Linked DNA regions of Homo sapiens. The protein of the gene in region 4 interacts with the protein of the main gene of each other region in a biochemical or structural test. Each region holds a gene or a part of one and is shown on either strand. Other genes may lie near its edges. The genes, in order: ZIC3, ELK1, MYOG and SRF.

Region 1 (7,874 bases), on a different chromosome or scaffold from region 4:
ATGGGTTCAAGGTGTCACTGCTGGAGCAAATCGGATTTAACGTGGAAGACAGAGGGTTGGCAGCGCGGGCGCTTCCGTTCCGCGGCCCGGCGTCGGGCCGAGTGTTTACAAACCGCCGACCGCTAATAAAGAGGTAATTACCTTCATGTGTTTGCGCAGGGAGCTCGGGTGCGTGTAGGACTTGTCGCACACTTTGCAGATATAGGGCTTGTCCGAGGTATGCACATGCATGTGCTTCTTACGGTCGCTGCTGTTGGCAAAGCGTCTGTCACAGCCTTCAAATTCACATTTGAAAGGTTTCTCACCTGCAAAAGGCAAAAACCCAAGGGGGGTAAAATACGGTCAGCGCCGGAGTTTCTCAGAGGCAAGCAGCAGGAGACTGAGCTCCCGGCGGTCTTCCCGGAAAGGGAGCGCGGACTGGGGGCTGCTGCTGCATCTATTTTCCCTGGAGAGAAATGAAGAGCGTAGGTTGAGCCCGCTGGGTTTGGGAGTGGTGGTCGGGGTGGGGGTGGGGGTGGGGCGGGGCCGGCCCAAAACCTGACCATGTCTTTGTTCTTGCAAGGAGGGAAAGCCCCTGGCTCCTCCGAAGTTTCCCCTAAGTTGTGTTTCCACCCTACCCGACCCAGGGCTCCCAATGCGCGGCCACGTTCCGCCACCACCTCAGCAATGTAACCGAGCCCGGCGGGACAATGGGCCCCGGACAGGACAATCCCGTTCAGCCTCTTTGTACCTTTTTATTTGCCTCTTTCAAATGCAGCGGTTTGGCTAAGCCCGATATTAAAAAGCCTGGGTAGTCGTAGTTAATGTTTGAGGAAAAAAATATAGATAGATAGATAGATAGATAGATAGATAGATAGATAGATAGATCGATCGATCCAGGGGGCTCCAGACAGTTTTACAAGATGTTCTGAACAAACCACGAAACTGCTTTAGCTTTCCTCCCGGAGGACTGAATTGAACCTGGAACTCCAAATAAAAATAGTTTGACAAAAGTATCAGTCATTTAATTAGGAGATGTGCCAATCAAGTGTAAAAAAAAGCGGAAGTAACCGAAAGTTAGTTTTCATTAGCATTTGTATGGTTGCCTTCCACGAATGTGTGCCGAGAGCTAAGTCGCTTGTAAGCAATATGCTCTCAACACATTCGGAGTCCCTTCACGGTAACCCAGAAAGGGAGACAAAAAGAGGCGGCGCCAGTTTGTTCCTGGGCGCGAGAAGGTCCCAATTAGTTCCTGAGACCGCAGAGCAGTCTGCCCGGGAAGTTAGAACTCGGCAAAGGCGCCACGGGACGGGGAGGGCTAGGGGTGGATGGTCACTGACAGCGCTTCTTTTTCGAGCGGCCGTTGCGGGGCGTCGCCCCTTTCCCTGGCCGCCACCTCTCTCCCTCGCGCTCTAAGTCCGCTGCGTGACGGGGTATCGCCAGTGGAACCCACGCCCGCCTGCTTTTTTCCCTTACCTGTGTGGGTCCTCTTGTGGATCTTGAGGTTCTCAGAACGGGCAAAGATCTTCCCGCAGCCCGGGAAGGGGCATGGGAAGGGCTTCTCGCCCGTGTGCACTCGGATGTGGTTGACCAGTTTGTACTTCGCCTTGAAAGACTTGCCCTCCCGGGGGCACTCCTCCCAGTAGCAGACGTGGTTGTTCTGCTCCGGGCCCCCCACATGCTCCATGGTGACATGTGTCACCAGCTCATGCATGGTGCTGAAGGTCCGGTCGCAGCTCTTCTTGGGCCGGCTCAGCTGAGCCTCGTCGATCCACTTGCACGACAGCTCCTGCTTGATAGGCTGCCGCATATAACGGAAGAAGGCGCCGGGCCCGTGGTGGGCCGCCACGTTCACTCCCATGTTCATGTTCATGGGGCTGTAGTTAGGAAACTGAGCGCCGGCCGCGTAGGGGTCCGTGCGCGGGCTGGCCACTGGGCGGTATGGGTCAGCACGGCCGAACAGCTCCCCACGCAGCCCCAGGTGGACCTGGTTGTTGTCCACGTGCCCTGTGGGCGACGGGTGCCCAGCGCCCTGCTCATGCAGCCCGGGAAACAGCAAGTAGCTAGGGGGCTCGGGGATGCCAGCTGGAGCATGCAGGCTGCTCGCCGAGCCGGCGAAGAGCCCGTGCTGCCCGCCACCCGAGGCCGCCTCACTGAGCCCGGAGCTGCGCTGGCGGAACAGAAACTCGCGCGTTGAGTTGAAGGCGGCAGAGGCAGCGCCACCGTAGCTGGGCACCTGGCTGGTGTGGTGATGATGGTGATGGTGGTGGTGATGGTGGCCCAGGGCGTTGGCGTAGCCCGAACCCTGCGGCGTGAAAGCCGAGCTCTGGCCTGAAGATAGATCGTGCGCCGCGGCAGGGCTCAGCTTGAAGGCAGCGGCGGCGGCGGCGGCGGCGGCGGCGTGGGTTGAGTCCCCGAAGGGATTCAGCCCCATGCCTGCCGGCTCACGGTTGGGCATCTCGTGGTGGCGCGGCGCGCCGAAGCTGCCCACTCCCAGCCCAGGGAACTGCGGGCCTCCGTCCAGGAGCATCGTCATGGGTGGGACGTTCTGGGCACAGGCGATCCGGCCGAAGTGAGAGAGGGTACCGGCGAAGGAGGAGATCTCCGAAGTGCCGTAGTCGGAAAGGGGTGGCGGCGGTTGGACACTGCGGGGAGACCCCCAAGGCGCTACCAGGGGCTGCAACTTTCCGTCACTGCAAGAGTCTCCTGCAGAGGGATAGGAGGGAGGAGGGGAAGAAAGAGCAGGGAGGGGGTGTTGGCGGGGGGAGGAGGAGGGAGGAGAAGGGAGGAGAAAAGACTCGGACTAGATCTGGTTTAACAAACTAACAGGCGCGCACAAAGAAAAATAAGCAAAATAGTAAGTGGAGGGCGGAGTTTGCCAATCCTGTCCCGGGCACCCCTCCTCTCCCCGAGTGCACAGAACCGCGGGGCCAGGAGGCTCCCTGGGTACCGGCCTCCGGGCTGGGCTGCGCCAAGTGGCGGAGCCGGCTAGCGGCCGGGCAGGCGGGCAGCGGGCAGTAGGCAGGCTCGTTACTCGCCGCTTGCCGCTCGCCGCGCGAGTCCCAGCCTCTTCGCCTCCAGAGTAATGTCCTTGGACTGATAAAGTCAATCACTCACTCCTCGCACATAAACCGAGCGGGAGGCCGCGAGGCGCGCGCCAATGGGGAGCCAGCTGGCCCGCGGTCACCTGACCTCCGGCCGGACTGCCCATTGGCCGCCGCGAGGCTGATTGGCAGCGCGGAGCGGAGAACATGGCAGCCGCGGCCGAGCGACCCCCGCTGATTGGGCAGCCGCCGGGTGCCTGGCAGGTGAGGCGGCGGCTGCCGGGCGGCCGCGAGTGGGCTCCACCGGGCTTGAGTGGCTGCGGGGAACTGGGGCCAGGCTCCAGCCGGCAAACGGCGGGACGCCGCCGGGACTCTCGCGGGCTTTCCCCCACCCCTCGCGGGCTCTTTGCCCCGCGAGGATCGGTCCCACTGCTGCGCCGATGGAGGAGACGCGGCGCTCAACGTCCAGTCCTGCTTGGGCCCCCGCTGCCTCACCACCTTGAGAACATGTCCCCTCTGTAGCTGCAGGGCGCAGATCCTGGGGAGAGCGCAGCAGTTTCGCGCTCCCGGTCCAGCCGCTGCGTCCACCTCCAATCACTGCGAGTTCTGATGGCCTCGAGGCCGGGACCCAGGCCGGGATAGTTCGCCGTTTGTGCCCCCAACCTGTCGGCAGCTGTCCGAGACCCAAAGGAGAAGAAACGATTACAATTAGAGCTGATCTCCGTTACTTCCGTCTGCGCCAAGCGTTGACCCTTTAGTTTGTGAGCAGCGGCCGTACTCGCCGCTGCCCACTTCCCGAATTACACACCGGGCACGACACAGCAAACATATACAACGCAGTAAACCCAAGCACACAGTAGGAAACAAGCACACAACACAGTAAACACAAGCGCACCACAGGAAACAAACACGACATATGAAATACGCACACAACACAACAAAGTAAGCACATACAACACAGTAACATAAACTACGCACAACACAGCAAACACAGAAACACAACTAAACACAACAGAGCAAATACACATAACAGCGAGCATACCCACAAATACAAAACATGCAAAGAACACTTTTAGCCAGTGTACGCAAAACATGCACACAACACACTAAACACATAATAAACACACTAGACACACACAGTATCAGGGTGGTTTCCAAATCACTAGGCTAATCAGCTTTGAATTCTCAACATTTTCAAATGCAAAAGTCGTGTTGGGGGTTGCTGATGCTGAATGGGGACTGTGACATGGAATTTTCTTTCCTCTGAACAGCCAAGGCTTTACTCTCTTCTACTCCTACCCGGAGAAGGTAAAGCATGTAGTGACCTCAGGGACTGCTTACCCCTTAAGGATTTACTTCCAGGGGTGTGTGTGAAAGTCCTCTCGCCTTCTGTCTGTTGCAAGGTCTTTCTGACATAATGACCAGGTTCAGACAAGGCTATAAATTCACTCATTTTTGTGTCCTGCAAGGCATTTGCAAAGAATGCAGAAGAGAGTGGAAAGAAAAGGCAGAGAGAAAGATGGCTGTGATTGTCACATCCCTAGCTGGGCCAAGCCCCAAAGTCTGCGCCTTGAGGCAGCCTCACAGCCTGGCCGCCATCTCTCTGTAGGAAATAGAACATCTGATCAAGTTCAGAGGCGCCAGGAGAGACCGCCTTAAGCAGCGCTTTATAACTGCAGCCTTTCACTTCCTGCTCCCCAGTCTGCCTGGCCCAGCCAACACTTCACCTTCTTTCTTAGCCAGTTTGCTGGGAGAACACCCTACCGGTAGCACATCTTACCGTATTCACCCCCTCCCATCAAACTCGCCCCAATTCTCTCTCCACATCCAGAGCTCTCTCCCCAGGTTGGAAGGTGAGTTCACTGCTGACTTAAATTATTGCGTCTGCCGAACATAGGCTCTCCAAGAATGGTTTCAGTGCCTCTCAGCAGAGGGTTTCTTTGGGGGGGTAGGGGGGCGCTGGTGTGTTCAGAGAACAAATATGCTTAAATCATGCAAATGAATCCCCTGGAGTCAGGTTTACAAAAAAGGAGGATTGCCTTTCTTCCCCCCCCCCCCCCCGCCCCACCTTTCTTTTCACTTTCTCCTTTATTTCCTCTCTTCCCTCTACCTCTCTTCACCTCCCACCAACCCCAACCGCCCTTGGCTAAGTAGTTGGTTTGAAAAAGTTTGGATTTCCTCACTGAGCTGGTCCCGCGGACAGCGGTTCTCGAGACTAGGGGACCGGGAAGGGGCGGCTGTCGAGCTCTGGCCGGGCCAGCGCTGATGCGAGAGTTTCCGGGGAGTCCCGCCAGGTACCCCGAGAATCGAGGGCCTTGCGCGATTGCAACTGGGTGAAGGGCTCAGAAGGGGGGCAGCCGAGGGAGCTCATCATGCCCCTATTTGGGAAGGGGTCTTGAGCTCAAGGCAGGGGGAAGTTGCCGCCGCTGACCTACCCGGTGCCCAGTGTCCGTTTTGATACGGCCACATTCCGATAATTAATTGCCTCCAGCACGTGCTCTGTAGTCCCTGGAACAAAAAGGCATAATTCAATTAGATCATCAACCGAGAAGTGGGGAGGTGGGGGCCGGGGGGGTGGATGCTTGTTAAGGGGGCAGACCTGAGGCGATTCAGCCAGGCCAAAATCCCGGGCAATGGAGCCCTTCACGGGACAGCCGGGCCCATCCTGAGAGTGCGGTTCTGAGGGGGTGTCGTTGTTCTGTGGGACGCAGGGGTCCCAGATGCGCGCAAAAGGACGAGGCTGGGGGCTTTGTGAACAGCAGGTCAGAGGCAGGCCATTTCTAAGTCGGTTTCAGTTGGTTTGAGTGGGAGTTTCCTTATTTGGGGAGGGGGACCCCTGACCCTTAAAAGAGGGTAGAAAGCAAAATCCCTCCAGATAAAGCTAGTTACTGCACATGAAAACAAAGTCCCCACCCCCAACAAAGCAAATCACTGCTGTTGGGGGGGAAAAATCGCGAAGTTTTTCTTATGACTTAGAGCTTCTCTCCTCCCCAAACTTGATTTTCAAGAGGAGACTCTGGGAACAACTTCGGGGAACAGGGCGCTTTGGGGAGCTGAGTCTGAGAACAGAGTGGTGGCAGAAGAGGGAAAGCTAAGAGGAGAAAAGTTTTTCCTACACACAGGCAGAGGTGAGGGGATGGAGACAACTCTCGTGTTTTCGTTTTTCAGGTGGAGACAGGAGTCACAGCTCTAGTCAGGGAGGACAACTCGAACCCAGGGGTCGTGGTTCTATAGCTGAGGCTCCCTCAGCAGCTTTGGCTTACTAGGGTTTACATGTGTAGTAGGCAACGTAAATTAACCAATAAATCTCTTTTATGTGTCCCCAAGTTGTATGTGGTCGGGTCTAAATATCCACATGTTTGTATGGATAGGAAATATAATGGGATCCTTTCCCTCACACTGAGTTCAAACGGTAAATAGGAAAAAGATTTATTTTTATGCCCAAATCTAAAGCAGTAAATAAAATCAGAAAAACTGATCACTTCTAAACCAGCAAAGCTTTTGAGCCCGATTTTTAGAATCCATCTTGAAGAAGCAGTAGGGAAACAGAACGTCCTGAGGGGCAGTAGGGTAGGACCGGGTTCTTCCTACAACCCAGAGCCCAACTCCACAGCACTTTTCTCTTCCGTCGAACCTCCGAAAAACAGAACATACACAGCACATTGTGTTATCATGCAGCATTTCTTTCTAAACACATTTTATGTGGTGGACATGAAATTATCCTGATTCGGTGACCTAGTAATTTTCTTTAAGTTCAAGGGAAACGCTGCGGTCTTTTCTTCTGTTTTGTATTTAGAAAAGACTTGCAATCTAACACTCGCAACATTTTAAAGGCCCTTTAAACCCAGCAAGCGGATTTCCGTTCTGCCAAGGCTTCCTGATTTATTTCAATAAATGAATCTTTGAATCCAGGAAGGGAATTATTCCAGGACGCTGAATTTGGTGCCCCTGTCTCTCCCTAGTGGAGCACAAAGTGTTTCTCATTGCAACATGTCCTTGAAACTCACCATTATTCGCCTTTTTTCCTGGTAAATGACACTTTCTTTACATAAATCCCCACCCTCTCTTCAGAGTCCCAGATCTTTTTAAAAGAAAAACTGCAAGTGGCAATAAAAAATGAAGGGGGAAGAAAGCTGGGAAAAGAATGCATTTTTAACTTCTCTTTATTTTTATGCTAAGATAAAGCACTTAATTGGCATCAGGGGCCAAGCTGAACTATCGATCTCCAGGACATGCTGACACACTTGCCAACCAAGTGTGTCTGCAGGTTGGTGAGCGTAAAATCACACAGCTCCAGATTTTATTGGCCACATCAGAATTTTCACTATGGTCCTATCATTTGACACATATTTTATAAGCCCTAAATACCTTTAAAATTCAATCGAGAATAAACAGATATTGTTAATTAACCCCCCCCCTTTTTTTTTTGCCTTTGTCCTCTGAAATACAAGGCATATTGTTACCCAATGTAATGAAATGCAAACCAGACAGGAATGAGACATTTTCATTGTACTTGTCAATCAGGGCTGTGCAGACAGATATATATACTTGAACTTCAGAGACATAGGCTGAAGTAAATAGGGCTGAACTTGAAGGAGGCAGGCAGGGACTTGAACTAGAACTATCAGAATCCAGTTTGGAATTATAAAGGGAGTCCCTGAAATATAGAAAATGCAGTGAACCACCCCACCCAAGTGGTAGGCAGTGGTCCTCAGGCAAATCTGAGTGAAAGGCTTATGACGAGCTGTGGCCTGCTAGGTTCTGCTGCCATGGAATACCTTTACCGCTCTGGGGGTGACTAGGTGTTAGCCCCCAGCTGCACTAGCAGTGGCTCCAGGTGCCAGGAGAGCA
Region 2 (6,113 bases), on a different chromosome or scaffold from region 4:
AGTGAGGTTTGTCACCTACACAATCTTTGCCACAATCCCTGACAACCTCTACTGTAGTTTCATGCCCACGTAGTCTCTCACATGTGGTTTTGGTCACCCAGTCTGTCTTGCTCGCCATCAAACAGTGACAGGGCTGCAGTCCCCGTTCCCTTCTCGTAGACATTATTTTGTGCATACCATCACAGGTTCTTGTACAGTACCTTGACTATTCATCCAGGCTCAGTTATTTTCTGAAACACAGCCACAATTTCCCACATAGACACACCATCAAAAGTCTGTGGTCACAACTTCTGCACACTCTCACACACAATCACAGCTTTCCACGTCTCTGACACACACATGGTTACCGATATGCAGTCCCTACTATTGTTTCTCACACACGCCATCACACCGTTTCTCTCACAATCGACCTCTGCCTCACACCCTCCACACACAGTCATGCGTGTCACGCTCAGCTAGTCCTGACAACATCAGAGAAAAAGTGCCAGCAGCCTCCAGCATCACTTTGAAAAATATATATTTACAGGAACAATTCCCCATTCTCTGGGACTCTTTAGAAAAAAAAAAGGTCCATTTTGGGGAAGTAAAACAAACAGTGGAGACGAGTGTAGCACTGTCCCCCAAATCACCAACCCCCAGGTCCCAAGGCCTGGGCTGGGCCAGCGCTAACAGGTGAGCCCAGGAGTCTTTTGAACCCACTCTCTCTTGCCTAGAATAGAGACAGGACAGGCTTTATGTCCCCCATTCCTCCCTCCCAACTCCAGGGACATTGAAAGGGTCCTTTGTACCCGCCCGCAGGAAATTGGGGGGCTGGGAGGGAGGGAACTGAAAATTCATGTTTGGTATCAAAAATAAACACTTGGAGTGGGGGAGGCGGCAGGAAGATTCCCCCCCAAATCCCTTCCTTCCCACCCACCCCACCAAATATAGGAAGAGATGACTCCCTCTCCCCTATTGAAAAGCCCCATTTAAAAATAGATTATACTATCAAAATGGCAGCGGGGGAGAGACAGGGAGACCTGGAGTACTGGCTGGAGGGGCCCCCCAGACGGGGACCACCCCCCAAAAAAACCCTCCATTGGGAGGAAACAGGCAGGACCCCAGGGAGGTTGGCAGACAAAGGAATGGCTTCTCAGGGGGAAGAACAAAAGGGACATTCCTCCCTGGCCAAAAAGTTGGTTGAAAAGGATAAGCTGTCTGAGAGAAAGGTTGGGGAGGTGGAAATTTCTATTCCAAGGGTGTGATTCTTCCTTGGCCAAGACTCCCAACCCATTAAATGGTACAAATTCTTCCTGGACCCCTGAGTATGGCCAGGAATAATAAAACAAAACAAACTAACTCTTCTACTCACATCCAAAAACGCAGACAGGGCTCCCTCATCTCCCCAAGGGCAGGCTGAGAAATAAAGAAAGAAAGGTCGTTCTCAAGCCAGACCTCGATTGTCTTGTCTTGGGGAAAAAAGTGGGGAGGTGGGGGAGATGTCCTAACCACCCTAAAAGGTTAGGTCAGGCTCCTCCCAGTGGCCTTCAAAAAATAAATAAATAAACCGCCCCTACCATTGAAGTAGGAGACGTGTAAGGGCGGCCACTGGGGGACTGACAGAAAACAGAGAAGTTGTGGAAGCTGTGTGTTTTCTGTGGAGGAGATAATGAGAGTTACTCTTGGGAGTAATTCTTCCCAAGGATCCCCACCCCACCACAATCAGAGCATGAGTCTTTCAGTTGAACTATGTTTCTCCTTGAGATGGCTGGCTGGAGAGAGCATGGATGGAGTGACCCCAGAAGGGGTGGTGGTGGTGGTGGTAGTAGTCATGGCTTCTGGGGCCCTGGGGAGAGCACCACGGGGGTCGAGAGGCCATCCACGCTGATAGAAGGGATGTGCACCTGGGCGCTGCCACTGGATGGAAACTGGGGGCAAAAAGAGGGAGAGGTCACAGATGGGGGCCATTCTTGGGTCTCTCACCCTGTCCAAAACGGGGAAAGAGGATCCTACCTGGAAGGAGAGCTTGGCCGGGCTACGGGGCGCAATGGGACTCAGGGTGCTCCAGAAGTGAATGCTAGGAGGCAGCGAGCTGGGTGTCAGCAGCACCGGGGTCTGTGGGGAGAGGGTGGTCGGAGCTCAAGTGAGTAGAAAGTAGATGTGGGATGCTGGAAGGGACTTGGTCCCGGCCCCACCACAGATTTCCCACTCACACTCCCAGGGTCACTCCCCAAAGTGCACACACCTAGATGGTAACCATGGAGGCCATGCCTATGATCTCTCAAACTCTGCAGACACCCCCCACTCCCCACTCCCGAGAGCCCACCCTCAGTTGCTGAGACCTCATTGGTCAAGACCACCCACAAGACCCTATCCAAATGCTGCTCTCAAACCTCTCAAGTCACCATCCCAACAGCTCAGGGTCAACTTCCAACTCATGTCCCACCCATGAAACCCCATATGCACATCCCAGACCAAAAAGCCCTGCTCAGGTTCCTTAAGCCACACCCCAACCTAGAAACAGTCCCACAGAAAGACCCTCGGTCCCACCCACAAAAGTCCCCAGCCCTGCCCTTCACTAATCAAACCCCATCCCTCCAGCCAGCATCAGCCCAGTCAATCACACTCAAAGGCTCCACCCTCTTCAGGAACAACCACACTCACCCTCCTCTGATTCCTGTCAGTCACCCGCCACATGCCAATCCCATTGGTGCTGGCGCCCACACACCCCACCCCTCCGCAGGCACTCACCAATGTATGCGTAGGAAGCAGGGATGGGGTCAGCGCCGGCCCCGGAGCCTGGAGGCCGGAGCCACTTCCCGATCCTGGGGTCCGTTCGGGTCCCGGCCCACCTAGCAGGCTCGGGCTGAGTGGAAGCTCTAGGTCCCGGGGCTTCCGGCCCTTCTGCGGCTGGGAGATCTCAGGGCTGGAAGCCGCATGGCCGCCCGCCTGCCCTGCGGTGTCCATAACAACCGCGGGCAGCCGGGCTGGCACGCCCTCCTGTGGAGGGACTTCTGGCTCGGCCTTGGTGGTTTCTGGCACAAACCCTCTCTCCCCCGCAACTTCCAACTCTTCCTTGGGCCCTTCTACTTTCACTTCTGGGGGCAAAGCCCGGCCCAAACCCGGCTCCACATTAAGCTCTTCCGATTTCAGGTTTGGGGCCTCGGGCGGGGTCAGGATGACCTGGTAGAGGAGCAGGCACAAAGAGGGTGTGTAAGGATTGTTGGGACCACAGGATTCTCCTGTGGGCCACCCAGTGATTTCCCCGGGAAGGTGGCACTTGGTACTCAGGGCATGACTGCACATCAGAGCAAGTCCTCCAACAGGACATAGGACTTCGTCAAGGAAGTAGGGCTTCCTCTGGGGCAGGTCCTCCTATGGGACAGGGGACTTGGGGTGAGACAACCTGAAGCGGGTAGGAATCTGAGGGATACCATCCTCATTCATTAAAACAGTGGTTCTCAAAAATTTACCTTCCTCTGGACCAGCAATATCTGCCTCATTTGGTAACAAGTTAAAAATGCAAATTATTGGGCCCCTCCCCAGCCCCACAAATTCAGAAACTCTGGGGGTGTGCCTGGCAATCTGTGGTTTAACAAGACCTACAGGTGATTCTGATGAGCACTAGAGTGCGAGAACCAGTGCATTAAACATATTCCAGGCACCTACATGTTCGGCAGCTACTAACTGTAGCACAGTATTCTCCCCTTTCTGTCTCAGGATTTGTGTAGCTCTCTGCCCCACCCCTCCTTCTAAGAGGATGTCTTCCTTCCACCATTATCTCCTTTAACGGGACAGCTATGTCTCTTCTACCAGCCTCCCTCGTCATCCGGGGATTACACATCCCTCCTCTTTACTGCCTCCTCTTACTGAATTTCTATATTCCAGTCCTTACCTGCAGAGGCAAGCCGGCCTCTTCAGCCTCCAGACAGGCCTCCAAGGGGCTTGGACTGGTGCTCCTGCTCCCCGAGGGGGGCGCTGCTGCCCCTGCAGGAGCTGCACTGGGGAGCACCACAGCAGGCCGAGGATGAGGGGGTGGCTGCGGCTGCAGAGACTGGATGGTGAAGGTGGAATAGAGGCCCGAGCGCATGTACTCGTTCCGGCTGCTGCGTGCCAAACCGCCTGGGCCTGCCATTCCTGCACCCTTGGGTGTGCCTGGCTTTCCAGAGACAGTGTCCCCTGGGGCGGCATGTATAGCAGCAGGGGCCACATTTGGCATGGTGGAGGTAACAGACACCTCTGGCTGGGGCGGGCAGTCCTCAGTGGAGCACCCTGCGACCTCAGGGTAGGACACAAACTTGTAGACGAACTTCTGGCCGCTCACCTTGCGGATGATGTTCTAGGAAGGGAGGAGAGGAACAGAGGGCCTTAGAGGAAAGGGGCAGGCTGGAGGCAGGGTGTCAGGGGGGAGGAGGGGGGTGGAGTGGCATTTCTCTTCTCCTAGTGGCTTTCTTCCCACTTGCTCCTCTCCGGCTTTCCCGTCCCTCCTCTGTAAGTTTCTCTCTCAGCCCATTTCCTCTCCCATTGGTTTCTACCTCTTTCCTCTCCCGCCAGATTCCCCTTATCTATATCCCTCCCCAGTTCCTCCCCTTTCTCTCTTCTCTCCACAATAATTTTTTCTTTAAGCCCCTTCCCATCCACCCCTTTCCAAGCCTCCCTTTGTCACTCTCCAGGTCCGTCTATCTGATTTTCCCACTCCCTCCACACTGTAGCTCCTCTTCACAATGGGGCCCATGAAGGGCAGTAGGTGTGGGAGCAGGTCTTCTTCCTGGCTCCAAGAACCAGAGGTTCACAGGGCCAGGCCTTGTGGGTGACTGTCAGGACACAGTTTTGGAGACTAGCAAATGCAATAAGACAAGAAAATGAAGTAACTGATATAAATGTTGGAAGAAAGTAAATTAATGTAGATGGATGGGGTGATGAATTATTAATACAGAGGATTATTTGAAGCTAATGATACAGAAGTGGAACAGGGCAAGGTCACTGCAGAGGAGAGGGTGAGGAGGCCTCATTATTAATACCACTGTGGAGGTTGAAGCTAAAATGGTAAGAAAATGAAGTAACTAACAGCAATTAGACAAGAATATTAAAAATACTGGTATAAATATTGGGAGGGGGCCTATATCAAGGCTGGCTTTGCTGGGTCACAGAGCATGTTTGGGGTTTTTCAGGTCTGGTGGGTCTCAGAGATGACCTAGTGTTCCCAGAGGGCAGAGTGAGATAGCCTCATTACTAATATTGTTCTGGAGGGTTGAGCTCAAGGAATAAAATATGAAAATGGAATAAATGCCATAAACTATGAAGGGTGTGCAGCATATGACCAGGGCAGTTCTGGGAGTGTGGAGGCACTAGGGCATTCTGTGGAAGTCTTAGTGCTGGTCAGATATGTCACAGGGTGGGCCTGTGTTTCTCGGAAGAGGAATAAAAAGGGATATTCATGAATATTGTTTGGGAAATTTCAGTAGAAGGATTAAGAAAATGAAATAACTGGTATAAATATTGGGGGGAGGAGAAACCCAGCAGTGGCCTGGGGGTCTGAGAGGGCAGGATGGGGGAAATTTTAAATTTTAGCTGTAGGAATAAGATAATGAAAACAATTGATATAAATATTGGGGTAGACCAGTGCTCCTCTGGGAATTTAAGAAGACAGTGTGTGGAAGTTGGCATTAAACATGTTGTTTCAGAGGTTTTAGCTTAAGGAATAAGAGAAGAAAATAATTAGTTAAAAATGTTGGGAGTCCCAGAGGACGAAGTAAGCAAAAGTTGGTATAATACTGTCAGGGAGGTTTTGATTCTAGGAATATGAAATATTCTGGAATAAGAGAAGACTATGAAATAACTAGGGAAGCCCAGCACTGGTCCAGGGGTTTCAGAGGACAGAATGAGGACCAGCCATTATTAACCGTGTTTTCAAGATGTTGGCTATAGGAATACGGCAGGAAAATGAAACGTTGTGCATGGCAGGGCAGCATCACTTTGGGGATCTCAGAGTGGGAGTAGAAAGAGTCAGTATTAATAATGCAGTGGTGGTTTTCGCCAAAGCAGTAAGACAAGAAAGTAGGTGAGATAGTGTTTAGGGGCCCAATACTGGTCTTAGGGTACCAATGGATGGGTTAAAAACTGATAAATTTTAA
Region 3 (7,676 bases), on a different chromosome or scaffold from region 4:
TAGTGGATTCTAGACTGCCTTGCAGCTCTGACTTTCTGTGATTCTGTGATCTGTTCTCATCTTGCTGCAAAGCTACTGCCCCACAAATAATCAATGCTGATTTGCATGTAATTTTTATGCATCTATGTCCTATTGAAATGCACAAGCATTTGCCACCCCCCCCCACCCCCCCCCACCCCCGACCTCATCCTCATCAATAATACCCAGAGACCCAGCCTAGGAAAATATATGGTGAGACCTGTTTGGAGCAGCCAGAGGCCCCCACCCTTCCAGACCCTTCTCCTTCTTGCTCCTCTATTCCCAAGCACATGAGAATCCAGAATGGAAAAATTGCTTTGATTTTAGCCAAGCACCATGGCAGCCCAGGTCAGCCCACCTGCAAAATCAGCAGGGACTAGAAGATGCTGAAGGCCAGAGGGCTGTGACTGGGTGTGCAGCAGAAGGGGTAGTAAGGAGCAGGGAGCAGGTGAAGGGGATTTCTGAGCATTTTGAAATCCAGCCGCTACCATGCAAATGACATCAGCCCAGCGTGCAAATAGACAGAATCAAGTTGAAACAGTCAGGGTTGGGGAGCCAACAATGTGGCCCTGGAGCCCCAGTAGGGGATAAGGGCTTCCTCTGGAGGGCGCAGGACTGCTGGAGGAGGAGGCTACAGTCAGGGCAGGGGGCCCTGTGTGCCCAAGCCAGCAGGGATGGGGATTAGGGCCGGACGCCCTGCTGTCAGGTTGGAGCTGATGGATTGCCGCTGGTGGCGGAGCACAAAGGCTGTTCTGTGCTTGGCACCAATGTGTTCCCATCCATCAGAGGGCAGCTTGTGGGGGTGGAGGGGTGTACAAGGGGAGGAGGACCAAGCCTCTAGATGAGGCGTCTCCACAGCTCGGCTCTGAGAGAAGAACAAGATGGGTACAGGGCCAATCCCCCCCATCAGGGTATGGACAGGTCAAAGACACCTGGGTCACTCTATCAGCTCAGACCAAGAGGGTCTGTGCCCCACATCGGGCTTTGACGTGGTCCCCAAACCACTGTACTCAGACATACACAAACACACACAGAGACAGGGATTCACAGAAACCAGGCACACAAGGTCACCCTAACCTCCCGGCTCTGCCCTCATGTTTGGTCAGAGGCAAACATCATCCAGACACAAGGCCAAATGCATGCCCAACAGAGCTTCTGCAGGCAAGCGCCGAGTCTAGGCACTGCTCTTGCCCCAGGTCAGGTCCCAGCCAGGGAACTGACACAGAGTGGGTTCTCAGTAAATATGTGTTGAGCAGATGAAGGAGTGAATTAATAAATTCCTTCTCTGGATTACGTCAGCACTTTCTCTAGCCTGCTGTTTCTACCTTGGTTAGATGACTTTGTGTACTCATTCTCCTTACTCATCAGTGAACATGCTGAAGGCAGAGAGGGCATGTCTTAGTAACCCCAGCACCTGGCACAAGGTGCTGAATGCACAGTACTTGATAGAAAAAAAAATGAATGAATGAATAAACACATTCGGGGTGGAGCCAGGTTTTCCCTCCTCCATTCCTGCTGCTGTGGTCCCCTGCAGGGCACACAGAAGTAGAAGAGAAGACAAAGCAAGAAAAGGGAATAACATTTACCAGGTGTATCCATGTGCCAAGTACCCTATCATTTAATACAGCCATTCCCCTATTGCTTGCATACTCGCCATCCTTTGCTAGCCTGAAACATGCACCCTCTCCCAGTCGAATCCATCCTCCTGCCTCTGAAGAGGTTGTTCAGACCTTCATCATCTCATTCCTGGATGACCATCACACTGTTCTGTGCGGTCTCCTTGCCTCAGCTCTCAAGTCCTTCCCTGCCCAGCTGGGCCTCCTCCCCTCTGTGCAAGTTTGTCTCAAATCACCCCCTTACCTGAACCCCAAGCTCCATACAAACAGCCTACCCAACGTCCCCTTCCCCTGCTCCCCTCTCCTCATCTGAATCCTACCAGTTCTCCAAGAGCTGGCCCAGCATGCTCCCCAAGCCTTCTGCAGAGCACCAGTCTTCAGCAGTTTTGGCTTCCCAAAAATTCCCAAAACGCTTTTGAAGAAACTACTGGTTTGCAATTGATTAAAGCCCCCATGTTTGCTGTAGAATCAACATAGCTCTCCCTTGTCTTGTAATCCAGCTTTCACATGTCAACCCATGCTCACCAACTAGACAGTAAGGTCTGGAAACCACCATAGAGCAAGCCAGCTCTGCCTCCATTTTAGAGGAAGAAGACACATTATTTAGAGGTAAGTCACACTGGATCCTGGAATAACAAAAGATGCAAATATGGGGGTTCCTATAGTGGCTTCAACATGACTTCTTTTCTCAGGGCTCATAGGACTGGAGGGTAAACTGAGGCTTTTTTTTTCTTTTTTGTTTGGCAGGGGATGTGTTAGAAATAGAGACTCTTCTTCAGCCCAGCTGGTCAGGGGAAAGCAAAGTTTAGAACCCACACAGTACCTATGCTGCTACTTTTTTTTTTTTTTTTTTTTTTTTTTTTTGAGGCAGAGTCTCGCTGTGTCACCCAGACTGGAGTACAGTGGTGCGAACTCGGCTCACTGCAACCTCCTCCTCCTGAGTTCAAGTAATTCCCTGCCTCAGCCTCCCAAGTAGCTGGGATTACAGTGCCCACCACCATGCCTGGCTAATTTTTGTATTTTTAGTAGAGACAGGGTTTCACCATCTTGGCCAGGCTGGTCTTGAACTCCTGACCTCGTGATCCACCCGCCTTGGCCTCCCAAAGTGCTAGGACTACAGGCATGAGCCACCACGCCCGGCCTATGCTGCTACTTTCTATCATGCTGGTAAGGCCAAGAACAGAATTAAGACCTCACTGCTCTCCCTCAACATGCTTAGGGTTCTTTTGTTGTCCAGCTATGTTCCCTCCTTCCCTCCATTTCCTGTCCCAAAAGGACATCAGAATTCTCCTGGCTCCCTGCTGTGAATAATGAGAGGAAGGAACACTGGTTCTTCACATGCCTCGCAGATCTCATGTTCCCTGTGAAGTCTCCCATGAGTCCCCAGCAGGGTTCCCCTTCCTCTTATTGTCCTTGCCACTGGCTTGAACTTGTCAGTTTGATCTGTCGTAGGATAAGGAGCAGGACATTAGTCTATGGGGAGGAAAAAACTGGGAACAAAGGATAAAAGATAGAGGGAGCAGATTGCAGCCCAAAGCTACACGTCAATGGAACGGGCTGTCTCCTGACGTGAGCAGAAGCTGAACAGTAGCCGCCTCGGAGGAGATTTGGGCATCAGGGGCTAGGTAGAAAGAGGTGATCACCGTTGTCTATCAGATGGTAAGTTCGAGGGCAGGGATCCTGTCTGGGGTGTCCCTATAATCCCCAGCCCTAAGACTGAGCCTTGTTCACTGCTAGTGTCTAAGGTCTGCCCACTGCATTGGAAGGAATTTGTCCTCTCAGACCCTGAGGCACCTACTGAGAGGTGACCATGGCCTGAGAGGCCTGAAGATTAAATAGTCCCTGCTCTACCTGACATTTGAGACCTGCATGATACGTGTAAAATTGATGGCTCAGACAGTAAGAGGCAGAACAACCAAGCCCGGTGGCCAAGGAGAGAGGAGATTTAAACTGAGTTTGAAGGGCTCTGTTTTTTCTACTTTTTCACCCCCGTCCACATTAATGAGCCAGGAAAATTCTGGTGTTGGAAAAAGAGTTGAGGAGGTAACATAGAAGGACAGATCAATGGTCCGGAGTGAGACAGGGAGGAGACAGGGAGCTTAGGACATCTTGACCTTGCCGCTCTGGGGAAGGTGGCAACGTGTAGGCTGTAAATTCTAATCTCTGCTCTGACCACGGCTGCTGTATTAAAGAGGAAATTTCTCTTTACCCCTGCCAAGAAAACCAAAACCCAAATAATTTCTCTTGCCTCAATTTACCCCCCCAGATGAGACCTAAGAGAACATACAGCTCAAAGCTGCTTGGGAACCCCAAAAGTGGAATCTGTTAGCTGCTCTGAGTCTTGATCCTTCTTATCCCTGGATACTGAGTGCCCATGAATGCCCAGAATCTGAAGCAGTCCCATTCTTTCCGGAGGGAAGTCTTTAAAAGAGTCTCATCGACTGATGTAGTGTGGTTAAGGTGCTGTCAGGAAGCAAGGAGATGGATAAGTTGGCTCTTAAGGCCCCTTCCAGCCTAAGCCTACCCTTCCTTGTTCCCTCCTCCCCCTATACCCACCAGCTTCTTCGGGACTGCAAGGAGACAGCAGGCAGGCCGCCCAGCTAGGAGTAATTGAAAGGAGCAGATGAGAGGGGAATGTGTCCTCCCCCAACGCCCCTGCCCCACAGGGGCTGCTGAGAAATGAAAACTAATCAAATTACACCCGACGGCCTCCCGACCCGTGCACAGGAGCCCGCCTGGGCCAGGGGCAGGCTGGCAGGGTGGGGTGGGGGCCATGCGGGAGAAAGAAGGGGAATCACATCTAATCCACTGTAAACGCCTTGATGTGCAGCAACAGCTTAGAGGGGGCTCAGGTTTCTGTGGCGTTGGCTATATTTATCTCTGGTTCCATGCCAGCGGGGAGGGTTTAAATGGCACCCAGCAGTTGGCGTGAGGGGCTGCTGGAGCTTGGGGGCTGGTGGCAGGAACAAGCCTTTTCCGACCCCATGGAGCTGTATGAGACATCCCCCTACTTCTACCAGGAACCCCGCTTCTATGATGGGGAAAACTACCTGCCTGTCCACCTCCAGGGCTTCGAACCACCAGGCTACGAGCGGACGGAGCTCACCCTGAGCCCCGAGGCCCCAGGGCCCCTTGAGGACAAGGGGCTGGGGACCCCCGAGCACTGTCCAGGCCAGTGCCTGCCGTGGGCGTGTAAGGTGTGTAAGAGGAAGTCGGTGTCCGTGGACCGGCGGCGGGCGGCCACACTGAGGGAGAAGCGCAGGCTCAAGAAGGTGAATGAGGCCTTCGAGGCCCTGAAGAGAAGCACCCTGCTCAACCCCAACCAGCGGCTGCCCAAGGTGGAGATCCTGCGCAGTGCCATCCAGTACATCGAGCGCCTCCAGGCCCTGCTCAGCTCCCTCAACCAGGAGGAGCGTGACCTCCGCTACCGGGGCGGGGGCGGGCCCCAGCCAGGGGTAAGTGGCCATCCCATCCCCCTGCCCCAAGGGGACGGGGCCAGAGGGAGGCACCTGGACAGCCTCAAGACCCCAAGAGGGGCTCAGAGGGTTGGTGCAGGTGCCAGACAGGGTCGAGGGGCTGCAGGAGCCCTTCCCTGGTCAGAGCTGGGCTATCCAGCTGACCTCCTGTGTCCTGTGTTCTTTCCAGACAAGATAAAGGCAGTGGGGAGGAAGTGCAGAAGGGGTTGGGGTGGGGAACATAGGACTGAAGAAAGATCAGGAGCAAGGCCACAGTCAGCCCAGGTGAGGGTGAGGATTAATCCCAGCGCCTGAGTCAGAGCCTAAAAGGCCAGGCCAAGTTCACCAGAGAAGACTGCTTTGCCCCCATCCTGGGTGTGGCTGAGCAGAGAGAAAACCCACTCAGTCTCATTGGAACTCCAGCAGGCCTGCACAGAGCGACCTTCACTGGGCCACAAAATCTGTCTCCATCACCCTTATCGCCAGAGTCAGGAGAACCAGGGACCCCTTTAAGCTGGTGTCCTGTGAGAGCAGAACCACCACCCAGGATGGAAGCCAGGAAGGCCTGGAAGCAGGGCCTCTGGGGTGTGAGAGGAGCTAGTTACAAAGATTCTGGGGTTGGGGATGGCCTGGGCTGGAAGGCCACAGCCTGTGGCCCACCCTCCAACCCCACCACAGGTACTTCTGCCCACTGGGACTAGGCAGAGAGAGACATCAAAGAATGGCTGTGCCCCGACCTTGGGCCTTCGCCCTGTCTTGCAGGTGCCCAGCGAATGCAGCTCTCACAGCGCCTCCTGCAGTCCAGAGTGGGGCAGTGCACTGGAGTTCAGCGCCAACCCAGGGGGTAAGTAAGGCCTGACTGGTAACCTTGGCTCCAATCCCTCAGTCCCTCCCTGGGCCAGGTTCTCCCCTCTTACCTTATTCCTTGCTCCGGTCCTCTTCCCTTGGGTCTCTCTAGGGACCTGCTGACTCCAAGGCCCAAAGGGTGGGCTGGGAGGTTCTGTGTGCCCCTGCAGTCTTGACCAGCAAAGGAGTGATAGTAGCTCCTGCAGCTCCCCAGCTGATGCCTGGTGGTTGACCTTCTCCACAGAGAGGACAATGTCCCTGCCCCAGGGGTCCCTGTGAAGTGCTGAGTCAGTGCTGCAAAACTGGGCCGAGCAAAGGGCAGGTCCAGTCTCTGGGGAGCTCCATCCTGCTCCAACTTGAGTGGCTGCTTCCAAACCCTACCTACTAGGGGAGTTCAGAAAAGAGGCGCATACACACACACACACACACACACACACACACACACACACTCACAGAGCATGGGGAAAGGCAGGGACTAGGGAGTAGAACTCCGGAGCTTTGTCATTCATCTGTCCTGGAAAACCTCTGTCACCCCAAGGGTCCCATCCTCTATTCTGGGCCTCAAGAACCCCCACTGCTCACCCAGGTACCACCTTCCCACCTCCCCTTACAGATCATCTGCTCACGGCTGACCCTACAGATGCCCACAACCTGCACTCCCTCACCTCCATCGTGGACAGCATCACAGTGGAAGATGTGTCTGTGGCCTTCCCAGATGAAACCATGCCCAACTGAGATTGTCTTCCAAGCCGGGCATCCTTGCGAGCCCCCCAAGCTGGCCACAGATGCCACTACTTCTGTAGCAGGGGCCTCCTAAGCCAGGCTGCCCTGATGCTAGGAAGCCAGCTCTGGGGTGCCATAGGCCAGACTATCCCCTTCCTCATCCATGTAAGGTTAACCCACCCCCCAGCAAGGGACTGGACGCCCTCATTCAGCTGCCTCCTTAGAGGAGAGGGCATCCCCTTTCCAGGGAGGTAAAGCAGGGGACCAGAGCGCCCCCTCGTGTATGCCCCAGCTCAGGGGGCAAACTCAGGAGCTTCCTTTTTATCATAACGCGGCCTCTAATTCCACCCCCCAAGTGAAACGGTTTGAGAGACGCAGTGCCCTGACCTGGACAAGCTGTGCACGTCTCCTGTTCTGGTCTCTTCCCGATGCCAGTGGCTGGGCTGGGCCTGCCCTGAATTGAGAGAGAAGAAGGGGAGAGGAACAGCCCTCTGTTCCCAAGTCCCTGGGGGGCCAAACTTTTGCAGTGAATATTGGGAACCTTCCAGTGGTTTTATGTTTTGTTTTGTTTCGTGTGTTGTTTGTAAAGCTGCCATCCGACCAAGGTCTCCTGTGCTGAAGTTGCCGGGGACAGGCAGGGAAAAGGGGTTGGGGCCTCTTGGGGGTGATTTCTTTTGTTAACAAAGCATTGTGTGGTTTTGCCATTGTTTTGTATTTTTTTTTTTTTTTTTTTTTTTTGCTAACTTATTTGGATTTCCTTTTTTAAAAAATGAATAAAGACTGGTTGCCAGAAGAGTGTCGGTGATGATGCAGAGGGAGGGAAATGACTGACAGCCCTGCCCCTTCCCACTGAGCAGTCCAGACACACCCTAGTGGGTGGGGCTCCACAGCGCTAAGGGCCTCATCTTGCTGGTGGTCACTAGGCACTGGGGACCCCTGCTCTTTTCACCATGATAAAGGAAATCGAGCATGTCTGGACCTCAGTCTAGGTGGAGACCAGATTCCACAGACATCCTTG
Region 4 (7,570 bases):
TGCACAAAAATGATACATTTATTGAAAGAGTATTTTTTTTTAATACAAAAGAAAGCTCTGTACATAGGACTGTGACCATGTCCACTATTCCTGGGTCAGCATCCCAGGGGAAGTAGAAACCACTGACATACACACTCACATTCAAGCACACACACTCACTCAGGCGCACACACCCACACACACATACCCCAGAGCCACCGAGGAAGGGAAACACCAAGGGTCGCTGCACATAAAAATATCACCTCAACTCATCCCTGACACACGCATGTCCTCCCAAGGCCACGCTCACACAACACACATTATAAGCACTTTGCCTGATTCACTCACTGGGTCTGTCTTTTGTGGGAAGGAGAGGAAGAATTCATCAAAGGTCTCCTCCCCATGGGTGGGGGAGTGGGGAGTGAGTGAGTGATGGTGGAGTGAAACAAGAGCAGAGAAAAGGGGCTGGGCAGTTACAGACCTGAGTCCCAAGCTCCCCTGCTCTCTGGCCCCTGATTTGCCATGCCCCAGCCTTGAAAGCCACCCATAAGCCCCAGCTATCTCCAGGAGAAAGCCCAGAAAGGTGACTTCCATCTTGGCACCCCAAACTGGGGCAAGACAGCAATGAGGGTTAGAGGTTAGGGGGTTCTCAAACATGTCGGCAAATCATCCCCTTGATAACTAGGCTGTGCATAAAATCTTCCCCCATCCCTTCACCTAATCACAGAAGCCAGCTTGTTCCTACTGAAGGCAGTCTTAGGGGTTAAGAAAATTTCACCCCACTGCTGCCCTGTTTCTGAAAAAGCTCCCCTTCTGGATATAGGTGGTGAAGGTAGGCTCTGACACAGGGTAAAAGACCCTCCCCCCTATGCTGGCCCACCCTCAAGGTCTACCCCAAAGGGGGAGGAGGGGGGTGGGGCATGGCCCCTGTACAAATTACATAAATACTGAGGTTACACTTAGAAAAATAAAGTCATTTTCTTCAAGGCTTTTTGTCTTAATTTAAAAAAGTTACAGTAGCTGCTCACTCCCTGGGAGAACTGCCCATTTCTGGCTCCCCTTTGGCTGCACTCAGCCCAAGAAGCTGCTCCCACTTCTTCTGACCCCCATTCCTGCCTCTCACCCCCTCCCAGACCCCACCCTGCTCACTGCAACTTGGGCCCCAGGCAGCTGCATGCCTGGGACAGCGCAAGGCTGCAATGCCCATGCGTGTGGCACAAATGAAGTCAGTTGCCTCTGCCTGACGCCCTCCCACCCCAACCCCGACATTTGGTCTCCCTCTTCCCTCTCCCTAGCAACAGCCCTAAAGGGCAAAAAGAGGCCCAGAGCTGTGGGTCACCCTCCCCACCCCGTTGGGGAATGGCCTGAGGGCCCCTCCCCCGGCTTTCTCCTGGAAACAACCCAGGACTGGGCAAACCCAGAATCTCCCCCACACACTGGTGGACCCCGAGCTCATGGGGTGGCTCTGTCCCCAGGGGCCCAGCCAGTTCTGGGGAGCCTGAGGGCTCCCCAGGGAAGGGGAGTTTGGGCAGGGAGGGGGACGAGAAAAACGCCATAAAAAAAAGTTAAATATTTTAAAAATATATATTTATAGATTTGTTTTCACTTCGTCTCCTCAAATAAAAAGTTCAAAATCAACTTTAAGTAAAGCAGCTGGGAGGAGAGGGGGGAAGACAAGGGGGAGAAGGGAACGCTGGTGGTTCCCTCCAACCCAGGAGCCCCTGGAGGTCCAAGGGGAGCGGCAAGGCAGGGCAGGCGGCCCCAGGAACCTGCCCAGTGCACAGGCCCAGCTACTCAGGAGCTGAAGGGGGAGAGGACAGCAGTGTGAGGAAGAAGCCCCCATCTCCCCAGCTGGCCCCCTGAGGGGCAGAGCCAGGGCTCTTTTGACCCAGCCTGTGACAGACACAGGGCTGACCTGGGGTCAGCAAGGAGGCTGGCAAGAGGGCCCCAACTGCTTCCTCAGAGGAGGACACGGTGCCCAGCCCCACAGAAGGCCTGTGTGTGGGGAGGTGGGGCACGGTCCCATTGGGTAAGCTAATACTCATGGCAAACATCGAGCCAAGCTGGCGAGGGGGTCCCAGGAAGGAGGACAGCCCCTCCAGCAACAGAAATGGGAGGTGGGGCGGGAAGAAGGGGAGGCTGAGGGAGGACGGGTGGAGGCAGGCAGGCCCATTTCTTTGGCTGGAGTGAGAGGGCTCAGTCCTGTGGCTGCCCGTTCCTCCTCCCCGCCTCCCTCCTGCGGCCCGTCAACGTGTGTGTAAAGAAAACGTGAAAAGGCAACAATAAATAAGTGGTGCCATCCCTTGGGCCATCTGTCCAGGGCGGCGGGCGGATCATTCACTCTTGGTGCTGTGGGCGGTGTCCAGGTTCACCACCTGTAGCTCGGTGAGGTTGCTGCTGCTCCCGGCCTGCTGCCCTATCACAGCCATCTGGAGGGAAGGGGATGTATGAGGAGGGGCAGGGACTGGCCAGCCAGTTCAGGCTCCCCTGGCTTCCCTGCCTGCCAACCACAGGCCTGAGCAGAAAAGCAGATGGGCTTCCAGGCTAGGGATTTTGGCTTTGATGAACTGGTAACAGGATCCCCTAAGGTCAAGACAAAGAAGTGGCTATCTGGGATGGGGTGAAAGATATCCCTACCTACCTGGTGGAGCTGAACTGCTGAAACAGGGATCTGCACTGTCCCAGATGATGCTGTCAGGAACACCTGGGGGACGCCACCTACATTGGAAAACCACAGGAGATACTCAAATTGTTTGTTGAAACTTCCAGATATTGGAGGAGTGGTGTCAAATGCACAAGTGACTGGGGCAGTCTCAGATGTAAGAGCCCAAGGGAAAGGGTGCCAGTGTGTCTGAGGGTGCATGCGGGTGTGAGTGTCCAAGTGGGGTGTCCAAATGTGTGTGTGAGCATCCAAGTCTGTGTTGTATTTGGGTAGAAATATTTGTAGGCATCAGTGCATATGTGTGTGTATGTGTGTGTGTGTGTGTGTATAAAGAAGGAAACGGTCCTCCTTTCCTTAGCCCTGCTCCTCTACTCACCTGGCTCCTGGACCTGGCTGTGTGACACCTGCATGGTGGATGGTGCCTGGGAGAAGGCATTCAGCACGGTGAGGCTGCCATCACCCAGGCCCGAGGTGGGGGCATACATCACCGCATGCGGGCTAGGGTACATCATGTGGCCACCCACAGTTGTGGGCACGGATGACGTCATGATGGTGGCGGGCAGCGTCACTGGCAAACACAGACATGTGTCAGCTCGGCACTGGTCCCCACTGATAACTCCCATTCCGTCCCTAGGAATTCCAGGCCCCCAGAGCCCTCTTGCCATTTCCCAGGTCAGAAGCTAGACACGACTATTCCTCAGCTCCATCATCAACTAAGAAAAGCCTATTTTTTCTTGAACACAACAGCATCAATCTTTAATTGTATCCTATCACATTGTACTATTTATTCAATTGTCTATCTACTGAATTCTCTAAGTCCTAAATCTTGGGAAAAACAAAGATTATGACTGACCTACTCTCAGAAAACTCAGATACTCCCCTTTTAGGAGCTCTAACATCTTATTTTTTATTTGTTCTCATTCTCCCTCCTTTTTTTTTTTTTTTTTGAGATGGAGTCTCACTCTGTCACCCAGGCTGGGGTGCAGTGGCGCGATCTTGGCTCACTGCAAGCTCCGCCTCCTGGGCTCATGCCATTCTCCTGCCTCAGCCTCCCGAGTAGCTGGGACTACAGATGCCTGCCATCAAGCCCGGCTAATTTTTTGAATTTTTAGTAGAGATGGAGTTTCACCGTGTTAGCCAGGATGATCTCAATCTCCTGACCTCGTGATCTGCCCCCCTCGGCCTCCCAAAGCGCTGGGATTACAGACGTGAGCCACCGCACCCGGCCTCTCTCTCCTTCTTAATGCACAGCTAACAAATTCATCTTTCAAACAAGCACTTCTCAAATGTTAACGTGCATTATATGGGAATCTTGTTAAAACACAGACTCTGGGCCGGGTGCGGTGGCTCAGGCCTGTAATCCCAGCACTTTGAGAGGCCGAGGTGGGCGGATCACGAGGTCAGGAGATCGAGACCATCCTGGCTAACAAGGTGAAACCCCGTCTCTACTAAAAATACAAAAAAATTAGCCAGGTGTGGTGGCGGGCACCTGTAGTCCCAGCTACTCGGGAGGCTGAGGCAGGAGAATAGCGTGAACCCGGGAGGCAGAGCTTGCAGTGAGCCGAGATGGTGCCACTGCACTCCAGCCTGGGCGACAGAGAGCGAGACTCCGTCTCAAAAAAAAAAAAAAAAACAGACTCCGATTCACTAGGTTTGGGGTGAGACTCAAGATTCTGTATTTCCAACAAGCTCCCAGGTAATGCTGGTGTTCCCAGTCCATAGGCCACACTTTGAGTAAAAAGGTTATAAATAATAAGAACTTAAAATTAACCTTACTTTGAGAGTATCTCATCATTTCTGAAATGTCTAGAGATACCTGAGGGTAACTGTGGCTACTCAAAACCTGTAAGACCCTCGCACAAAGAGAAAATTGCTCTCTAAGTCCTTCCTGATAATTAAGCAAATGTGTCTTTGAGCAAGTAACTTCTTATTTCTAGGCCTCAGGCTCCTCATCTGAATGAGGAGGTAGGTCAATGGTCCCCAATTTTCTTCTGGAATCCGCAGCCCACTGCAGGGCGGGATTCAAAACCCAGTCATCCTCACCTGACTTCCCCATAATTATTAGGCCCAAAGCCTCAATCTCCACTTTAAGAAATCCCCTGACTTTAGTTACAGGAGGGTTACTGTTGGGCACCTACTGCTAGGCCTCGTGGGGGAAGGCAGGGAGGGAGGGTGACAGGGCTGCGAGCTATACCTGTCCCGCTGGAGGAGGTCTGCGTGAGGTCTGTGCTGCTGTCACGGGAGGGAGACGCTTGCTGTGGGGCCTGGTGCACTTGAATGGCCTGCACTGGGACCTGCTGGGCCACTGCCCCACCTGCAAGACACAGAGTCTTATTTGTGCTCTGTCCCACCCAATTGCCACCTCCACCAAGTACCCATGGACACCCCAGTCCCAGGGTCTGGCACACTGGTCTCCAACTCCCATCACTATCTTTCCTGGAAGCCAAAGAGGCCCTTCAGGCCCAAGTATCCACTCTGGGGGCTTCCACGCTCTACTCTTGCCCATCCCTCCTCCTCCTGCCCTGGGCCTTGTCTCTCTTTTCTTCAGTTGACCCAAGAGCTGGCAATAACCCATCAAAGACATGATCTGCCTTCCAGTCAAGGCAGGAAGTGGTGAAACATCTACTGCCCTGTGGCAATGAGGGCACGGGGCTGGGGTAGCTAGACAGGGCCAGAATATATGGTTGAAACTTACTGACAAGGACAGCAGGGGTCTCAGTGGGCAGAGGTATGCCTGCCAACGGGATATAAGAGGCTTCGCTCAGGCTCTGGCCCCTATTCACCTTCCTTCTGAGCAGGGAAAGAGGTTCTCTTGGTGCCAGCCCTAAACACACTCTTAGCATGCTTGATTTGCCCCAGGAAGGACGAATCTCTCCCTGCCCCTCGTGACTCACCAGGCATGAGGGTGAAGCTGGTAGGCAGCTGCATAAGGCCCCCAGAGGAGACAGGGCCGCTGCCTGTACTCTTCAGCACAGTCCCATTGGCACTGCTGACAGCACTGGGGCTGACACTAGCAGACACTGGTGCCAGGTAGTTGGTGATGGGAAAGGAGGGGCCGCTGCTGACTTGCATGGTGGTAGAGGTGCTAGGTGCTGTTTGGATGGTGGAGGTTGTACCCGGCAGGTTGGTGACTGTGAACGCCGGCTTCAGTGTGTCCTATACCCAGAGTAAAGATGAAGCAATGAGCCCCTACCAGATCCTGCCTTTGCAGAAGCTTTGTGTGGACTGAGAACCCAGACTGAAACCAGTGAGCTTGGGTTCAAATCCCAACGCCACCATTTACCTGATGCCTGACTCTTAGGTAAGTTATTGATCTACTGAGCTACAGTTTTCTATCGGTAAAAGGAGGATAATACCTACCCCCTAGGTTGCTGTAAGGATTAAGTAGGTTAGCATATGTAAATCACTTAGAAAACACTACCTGGCACATAAAAAAACCAAAATAAATATTTGCTGCTCTTATGATAATTATTATCATTGTCATTATTATAATCCCCTGAGTTCTCTGCTCCAGCGGACTGTGGTAATCCCATTGGCTGGGGAGTCAGGACACCAAGGTCTGTTCCTAGCTCTGGTAATGACCATCTAAGTGACCCTGAAATAACCAGTCCCCTTTTCTGAACCTCGGTTTTCCTCTTCTATAAGCATGAGGGGGCTGGGCTACTACGTTTTCTTTCAAAGAGTTCTTCCAGCTCTAATTTGTCAGGCTTCTGAGATAGGAACTGAGTTTCTCAGGGAACTTAAGAGTTTGAGAGAGATCTTGAGAATCTGGCAATGACACACTATATGTCAAACACCCAAGATGTAAACTACCAAAAGAATGTACTCATCCAACAAAATTTCCTGGGAATAAATGAGCCCTACTGTTATAAAAGTTTAAAAATTATTACAGATGATATGCCACTAAGAGAGGAGGTAGCCTACAGCACTGACTCTCCCCTAAGGAAGACTTCGTTCTTAGAAGGGGAAGAAGGAAACTGAGAACCAAGCCACCAAGCCCAGACCCGAAATGAGTCAACCAGAGGCTCAAAGGCTGCGGGGTGGGTCAGCACGAGACGTTTGCAAAGCAGCTGGGCCCAAGACCCTTGATTGGCAGAGGCGTTGCTAAGGCAAACAGTGCCGCTTCCTCCCATTGGCCAGTCAGTTAAGTGCCACCCGGAAGGTGGAGCTCCCCAGACAGCAAGGGAGGAAGCCCCACCCCCTCTCCTTACCGGGAAAAGGAAGGGGGAGGAGTAACAGCGCAGGCATCCCTAGCAGCAGGCAAATGCGCTCCCTAACTGCCCAGGCCCCCAACACCCTGAAAGGGCAGCGGCTGGCTTGTAAGGTAGTCCCCGGCCCAGTCAACCAGCCCGCCTGCCAAGAGTGCTGGATTCCCAGGACCCCGGGACCGGAGTGCTCCCTTTCTACTCCCTGGCGACCCAGCCCGGAGGGCCGGGCTAAACTACACCCCCGCCCCTAGCGGGGAGACAGCTGGCGGGAGGAATGCAAAGGCCCTGCCAGGCAGGCGGGCTGCGGGCGGGAGGCCGGCGTGGAGCCCAAGCCGGCCTTATATGGGCACGGAGGCCGCCCGCTTATCTAGGGGGGCGGTCTTCTATCAGGAAAGTGAGGATGGACACCTGTCCCCTAGGACGAGGGTCGTTAATCCGGCTCCACTCCACATCGGTGGGCACCTATCCACCTGTCCTGGGCCAGAAAGGGAGAGGGACCCCACTCCCTTCCCTCCTCTCACATAGGCAACCCAAACACACCTTGGTCTCCCCACTGCTGTCAGACTCCGACACCTGGTAGGTGAGATCTGTCTCTTCAAAGCCAGTGGCACTCATTCTCTGGTCTGTTGTGGGGTCTGAACGGGGTGGAGAGTCTGGCGAGTTGAGGCAGGTCTGAATCAGTGCCTTGCCGGTCTCACTGGTGATCATGGGCTGCAGTTTT

The links.
Region 1: the proteins of SRF (region 4) and ZIC3 form a complex in vitro, tested with the Homo sapiens proteins (one study listed by BioGRID).
Region 2: the proteins of SRF (region 4) and ELK1 form a complex in vitro, tested with the Homo sapiens proteins (2 studies listed by BioGRID).
Region 3: the proteins of SRF (region 4) and MYOG form a complex in vitro, tested with the Homo sapiens proteins (2 studies listed by BioGRID and IntAct).

The regions. Positions count from the first base shown.
Region 1 is NC_000023.11:137,561,333-137,569,206, reverse strand, and holds the start of ZIC3 (zinc finger protein ZIC 3), read right to left. Parts: upstream 3,081-7,874; 5' UTR 2,516-3,080; coding exon 1,456-2,515; intron 306-1,455; coding exon 142-305; intron 1-141. UniProt on the Homo sapiens protein: Acts as a transcriptional activator. Required in the earliest stages in both axial midline development and left-right (LR) asymmetry specification. Binds to the minimal GLI-consensus sequence 5'-GGGTGGTC-3'.
Region 2 is NC_000023.11:47,635,021-47,641,133, forward strand, and holds the end of ELK1 (ETS domain-containing protein Elk-1), read right to left. Parts: intron 4,319-6,113; coding exon 3,875-4,318; intron 3,163-3,874; coding exon 2,731-3,162; intron 2,095-2,730; coding exon 1,993-2,094; intron 1,908-1,992; coding exon 1,809-1,907; 3' UTR 501-1,808; downstream 1-500. UniProt on the Homo sapiens protein: Transcription factor that binds to purine-rich DNA sequences. Forms a ternary complex with SRF and the ETS and SRF motifs of the serum response element (SRE) on the promoter region of immediate early genes such as FOS and IER2.
Region 3 is NC_000001.11:203,082,904-203,090,579, reverse strand, and holds MYOG (myogenin), read left to right. Parts: upstream 1-4,567; 5' UTR 4,568-4,618; coding exon 4,619-5,089; intron 5,090-5,851; coding exon 5,852-5,933; intron 5,934-6,006; exon of another isoform or gene 6,007-6,208; intron 6,209-6,548; coding exon 6,549-6,670; 3' UTR 6,671-7,451; downstream 7,452-7,676. UniProt on the Homo sapiens protein: Acts as a transcriptional activator that promotes transcription of muscle-specific target genes and plays a role in muscle differentiation, cell cycle exit and muscle atrophy.
Region 4 is NC_000006.12:43,173,933-43,181,502, reverse strand, and holds part of SRF (serum response factor), read right to left. Parts: coding exon 7,390-7,570; intron 5,798-7,389; coding exon 5,536-5,797; intron 4,956-5,535; coding exon 4,836-4,955; intron 3,210-4,835; coding exon 3,018-3,209; intron 2,698-3,017; coding exon 2,621-2,697; intron 2,409-2,620; coding exon 2,313-2,408; 3' UTR 1-2,312. UniProt on the Homo sapiens protein: SRF is a transcription factor that binds to the serum response element (SRE), a short sequence of dyad symmetry located 300 bp to the 5' of the site of transcription initiation of some genes (such as FOS).